Linked DNA regions of Homo sapiens. The protein of the gene in region 1 interacts with the protein of each later gene in a pairwise test. Each region holds a gene or a part of one and is shown in the gene's direction. Other genes may lie near its edges.

The links.
Region 2: the proteins of IDH3A (region 1) and MBNL1 interact in a two-hybrid assay, tested with the Homo sapiens proteins (one large-scale study listed by BioGRID and IntAct).

The regions. Positions count from the first base shown.
Region 1 is NC_000015.10:78,169,326-78,172,700, forward strand, and holds the end of IDH3A (isocitrate dehydrogenase [NAD] subunit alpha, mitochondrial precursor), read left to right. Parts: 3' UTR 1-2,118; coding exon of another isoform or gene 2,119-2,204; 3' UTR 2,205-2,620; downstream 2,621-3,375. Other genes in the region: long-chain-fatty-acid--CoA ligase ACSBG1, read right to left, coding at 2,157-2,204. UniProt on the Homo sapiens protein: Catalytic subunit of the enzyme which catalyzes the decarboxylation of isocitrate (ICT) into alpha-ketoglutarate.
Region 2 is NC_000003.12:152,460,887-152,463,895, forward strand, and holds part of MBNL1 (muscleblind-like protein 1), read left to right. Parts: intron 1-1,498; 3' UTR 1,499-3,009. UniProt on the Homo sapiens protein: Mediates pre-mRNA alternative splicing regulation. Acts either as activator or repressor of splicing on specific pre-mRNA targets. Inhibits cardiac troponin-T (TNNT2) pre-mRNA exon inclusion but induces insulin receptor (IR) pre-mRNA exon inclusion in muscle.

The DNA.
Region 1 (3,375 bases):
TAAATAACAGGATACAGAATTAACAAGAGAAAATGTCTAACTTTTTAAGAAAAACCTTATTTTCTTCGGTTTTTGAAAAACATAATGGAAATAAAACAGGATATTGACATAATAGCACAAAATGACACTCTTCTAAAACTAAATGGGCACAAGAGAATTTTCCTGGGAAAGTTCACATCAAAAAGAGTGAATGTGGTATATTTCTAAATGATATGGAAAATAGAGACAGATTTGTCCTTTACAGAAATTACTGAGTGTGAATAAAAACTTCAGATCCAAGAAATATATAATGAGAGATATAATTTTTGTTAATAAGACAAAGGTAATATATTGGATACAAAGACACAAATGTATTGTGTGTTCAATTATTTTGTTGTCTTGAGATTTAATATTCTTTCCAAGAGCTTTTAATGAAGCAGAGAGCTAGTACTTCATTTTCACTGGATACATTTTCAGCATCATGAGTTGTCACAGCCTCTGAGCCCCTGATCTGAAGCCAGAAGGGCTGAGTGTATTGTAAACTTATTCTTGCATGTTGCTGTCTGGGAATGGACCACACTACAGCAGGTAGTTCTGGGGGCGATACTGCCGAAAGGCCCGAACACATGTATTTTGGCTGCAATTGAGGAACTTGGGATGCTATTAATTTTGTATTTCAGCAACTGCCCCTTCTCCTATCCCAAAGCACCAATTACTGCCCTCTGCCTCAGCAGTACCAGTATAAGATGACATTCCAAAGACTGGAGGCAACTCAGCCTGAGTTAATTCACAAAATTATGCCATGCTGGGGCTTGAGCTTGAGCTTGGGCTTAGGCTTGGGCTCAGCTTTTGACCCTCAGGCATCTCCTTTCCCTTCCTGTCTTCCTCTCCCTTCTCCTCTGCTGCAGCATGATTTTCTTAATCTTCAGACACTCACTATTTTCATGAACAGTTACCCTCTGTCCCCACAACCAAAGACAACTCATGGCCTCCTTTGGCCCTTGTGTAACATTGCAAACCTGTGGCTTTGCAAAATGTACCCAGGTCACAAGGGGATTTTTTTTTTTTTAGCAATGATATCCCTGTCTGGGTCACTTTTTAAGCTTGTAACCGCCCCCCCAGACTTATAATCTTAAATGTATTTTCCTTTGTTTAAGCTGCTGCTTCCTCTGTTTCATTGGATTGTGCCAGTTATCAGTGGCTCTTGGGTTCAAAGTAATAAAGAATTCCAAAACTGAGATGTTTGCTTTCTCTACCTGTTTCCTGTTCAGATGCCTTCGGTCATTTTGGCTCAGCTTGCTACTGAGAATGGCTGCTTCCCGTATTCAGAATGGAAGTGGGGTGGTCTGGTGGCGACAGGCTAACGTAGAGCTGGCTGCTTTTATGAGAATGCGCCACTTGACCCCATCCTGCACCTTTGTTTATTCCAGGGCACTAATGGTCACTCGCATGCCCGCTGTGCACAGTCCTGTGAGTTAAATGCCCACTACTCTCTGCACTGGTCCCACCTGCTCAATTGACAAAAAAAATCAGGTCCTTGTTGACAGTTCTGTTAAAAGGTTTAATATTCAAATTATACATTAAATAGAATCAAACAGGCAGCAGCAGTTTTATTAAGCATCAAGTCAGTTGGCATGTGGGTGGCGGAGTGCCTGGTAATGGAATAATAGGGTCGGCGATGCCCGCCAAGATTCCAGAGTAAGTCAGGTCGCTAGGTGAGTTGTGACTGATTGCTTTTCCTGCAGCGCACGTGAGCAGTATCAGCCATCTCTCTCCTACCCGCTCCACAGCCTACTGCTGGCTGTCCTGTATGTGAGCTAGCAGCTTTTTAATCTACCTGGAACTAAGGCCAAAAATTATCAGCCCTTTCGTTCTGGAAGGAGAGCTGATCTCATTTGTCACCTGAACAAAAAGCAATACTTAAACTGAATTAAAACTACCCACACGTGAAGCTTCTTGGAATTGTCAGCTATTGTTGGCGTAAGACCTGGTAAATGTAGAGCCAGTGCTGTGCCCTGACCTGGAGATCTAACAGACTTGGCAGAAATGCCTGTGCCCAGACTGAAGAGACCTGGGGCTCAGGAAGAGGCTCGGAACGCCTGCCCTCTATTCTATAGAAACTGCAGGCATAGGCCCTGATTACATTTTTTGCTCTTGGTAAAAGGAGTCAATGATACCTTTGTACTTCTCCAAAACTGTGAGCCGTTTCAGTTTCATCGTGGGACCTAAAAGGGAAATGAGAAGAAATGAGTGAGGCCCAGGCTCTGAGAACTCTGAGAATGTGTGTGGTAAAGACTCACACTCAGTCCTATATATAACTCAGGAATTAAGCCAGATAATCAGGACCGTCAGTAGCCAGCCTCCAAGACAGTGATCGCTCCTGGTATTCATATGGCTTGTGTGTAGTCTCCTGTGTTATACCACTGGTTGTGGCCAGTGGAGTATAGATGAAGGGTTGGTATGTCACCTCTGAGAATAGGTTATAAAAGATCAGTTTCTTTTATACACATAGGAAAGTAGTGTAAGCTACATCTGCCTTTTCCTTGACCTGTACCCAGTTTTGACCCTCAGTCCATTTTCTCTGAAATGGATTTATTTGTTCCATCTCTTGAATGAATAAATTGTTGAAGCAATTAAAAAATAGACTAGGTTTCTGTCTTGGGCTTTCTCTTGGACCATTCTTCCTGGGCAAGCCGGCTGCCATGTTGTGAGGATACACAGCCCATGAGAGGCCCACTGGCCACACACGGATGTTTCTGGCCAGCAGACAGCAAGGAGCTGAGGCCTGCCGACAGCCACGTAAGTGAGCGCGGAGGTGAGCCTCAGCTGCAAGTGACTGCACCCAGCTCACATTGACTGTAATCCCGTGAGACCCAAGCCAGAACCACTCAGCTAAGCTGTTCCTGGATTCTTGACCCATAGAAATGTGGATAATAAATGTTTACTGCTTTAGGCTGCTACATTTTTGGGGTCATTTGTTACACAGCAATGTATTAGATAGCTAGTACACATCATCTCTGCATTTTTGTGAACGTTTATACAACGTTGGACATTATGCTTTGATGGTTGTGATGGGGGTAGGGGAAGCCCAGGTTATGGGGAGCCTCTGCCATGGTCTTTATGAGAGGTCTTCCCCTAATTACTTTTCTTAACCTTGATTTATCCCCCAAAAGCAAGTTTGAAAGAGCTCTGATTTGAGGTCCTGGGTAGCTTAAAGTGCCTAACTCACTCTTGACTGTGTAACTGGAAACTTTCTGTGTTAAAGTCATTATATTAACTGCTTAGTGAAGACATCTTCTGTCTCTCTGACCTTGCGTTCAATATGCTGGCAGCAGACAGCCAGATAAGCTCAAGGTCTCTGATTGCAGCTCAGCTTTGCTGTAGACAATTGCATCT
Region 2 (3,009 bases), on another chromosome or scaffold:
GAGATAAAGGTAAATAGATAATAAGATAAAGATGTAAGGAATTTCAGGATAATATAGTAAAATAAGAGAGGTTTGAAGAAATTTCTCTTAGAGCAAAGATGAAGGAGCAGCTGTTCCCAACAGGATCCGTAAACAAATGAATGTGGACAATGAAGGTGTTGTTCTAAAGAGAATGGAGGTGTAAAGGCCTTGTAAAAGAAGGACAGTGTGCCAAGTCAGGAAACGATGATGGCTGAGAACCAACTCAGAAACCCTTGTGATGTTAATCTGTAGCAAAGCTGGACAAAGTCAAAGCCCATGCAGGAGAACAGGCAGAATTCAATAGCCATTTAAGAAAGAAATGAGAGGCTCAACTGGAGAAGTACTGCCAAAGATATGCTGCAATCGTGAATTATTAAAATTGATTTTTGTCTATTTCATAAGTTTTCTCAAAGCAGTTCTGATAAAAAGGTTCAGATTCTGAACAATAGCCACATTTGTAGAAGAAGAGGCATTACTTTGCAGTGTTGTAGGTTTAGAAGAAGAGGTTTTTTTGACATGCCAGAAAAATCTGTTTCAAGCTCTTATAGTCAATTAGGTGTGTTTGGTATGTATATATTTAACTAAATTCTGTTTCTTAGCAATAATCCAGGTTGAAAAAAATTTCTAAAAATAATTAGCAAACCAGTAGTTTTGTCTGTATTGAAGCTAAGCTTTTAATGTTCTGTTCATTTAACAAATGATTGCTCATCTTCATGAGGAGTTGCAACATTTAAACTGGTTTTTGAGTCACTAGATTATGATTTCTTTCATTTTCAAGGTTGTATTGTGAAGCATACTTTTAATATATGTAAATATTCGCTGCTGAGAACAAATTTCATGTAAAAACTGGAACTGTTAATCCACAAGTACATTGTAATGTCTATTACAGCTTAATTCATGAGTAATAATTCTGTAATTCAAAAAGAATGATTTTTATTTTCTTAGTTTTAGGTGAAAAAAGTTCAACAAACTGAATTACCCAAAGCCATCACTTAAAGTATCATTCTTTTTTTTTCAAACATGCATTATGCTAATCAAGCACCCAAAAAGAATAAATCTTGTTTAATAGAACATATTACATGAATTTTAATTTTGTAGACCAGACCTTTACTCTTGAAACCTTATTAAACTTCAGAAAAGAAGTTTAAATTTTGCCCTACAACAATTGTGCTAAAAAAGAGCTCTGTATATTAGGCCCCCTGATTCTGCAAATGTATTTTATACTTTTAGTTTAGGATTGGTAAATTTTGGAGCACATTCTACAGTTTTATTAAATTGTACGTGTTATTTCATTCGTGTAGAGATGATAGACAAATTTTGATCTGTCTACTCTTGTAAAATGGTTTTTGTTTTTATATGAAGATATAATGTAAATATACTGGTTAATCAAAAAGAAAATTTTCATATTAAATGTATATTAGAAACTGCTTTTAGATATTACCTGTTCTAACAAAGCTTATCTCTTTTTCCCTTGTAGATCATGCTAAAGAGGAAAGGACAGTGTGCTTGGTTAGAGTAAAGGACGAGGTCATTAGCCATATTGTATATATCGTCAAGCAACACACACAAAAGTTCCTCAGCCACAAGACATCCACATATTGCATGTTAACCAGAAGAAAAGACAACATTTTCCGGAAATCCACTGCACACTGTTGCCTATACACTTTGTACATTTAATTGATATTTGTGCTGAGGTGATATTCCTGTCTAAAAGAACAACATTGTCTTTCTTTTCTAGCACAGAGTTATGCATTCAAAGATGCATACCTAGTTAGTTTCCTATATATTCATGCCATCTTGAAAAGACAGACTATGGTGTAACCATGATTCTATTATGTATTGGTACGTCTGTAGACCAAGATATAATTTTTTAAAAATAAGTTTATTTCTTTCAAGGTTTACAAATAACAAAGGTGCACCTTGTATTTAAAATTGCCATTATAGATGAGAGCGTGCATGCACAGTCATTTTTGTTTAAGAGTAATATTTTTAATGTAATAGATTGTAAGACGTGGTGAGGGAGGGATCTGACAGAGATGAATGTGCCAAGCAAAACCACAACTGTGTATATTTTAAAGCACATCATGGCTTTAAGTACCATGTTGTTAAGGATTCTCATGAAGTGCCATAGACTGTACATCAAATTAGAGTATTATTTCTTCAGTGTTATTGTTTTCAGAGCCACATTTTGTTGCATATTTGCTAGTACTAATCAGTCAAAGGGCACCATTCTTTTTTTTTTTTTTTGAAACCAAAGCTGTCTCAGAAATGGCCAATTTAACTTTACAGTAACAATAGACAGCACAACACAAACTCTCTCAATACAGATAAACTCACACATACTGGAGATATATATATAATAGATATATATAAAATTATTTTAATGCATTGTAGTGTAATATTTATGCATACTATACTGTATAACATGTTATTCAAAAGGGATTGCCATTTCTGAGACACAGTAACAAAAAAATGAGGAAATTATTTTGCTTCTATTTATAGCCTCTGTCAAAAGTCAAAAGACTATAAATGCTTTGCAAAAATGGTTTCACGTTTGCTTAAATGCTTCATCACAGTCACATTCAAAATAGTGACTCTAAACAAAGAAGAAAGCAGCACTGTCATCAGATGCATGATAAACCAAAATATGAAAATGGGAAATGTTTAATTAACCTAGTAATTGGGTGGGTTAAGTACATGGGTGAATTTTATATGTGATTTTTGTTTTGTTTTGTTTTGTTCAGATTAACTGCTTATAGCCTTAGAAAGCCTTTTACAAAATTAAAAAAAAAATAGATGTGCATTCAGTTTTTAAGAATGGAATCATCCAAAGGAATTCCTTTTTTTGAGGTTTGGATGTTGCAGCTAGTAAAGGATATTTTTGCTCTGTTCAGCAGTTCTAAAAATTGCTGAAGTAGGGGCCAGGTCACTGGTAGTTATAGTATGGAATGGGAGAAGTGAAAGTTCAGTTATAGAACTTTCCATACT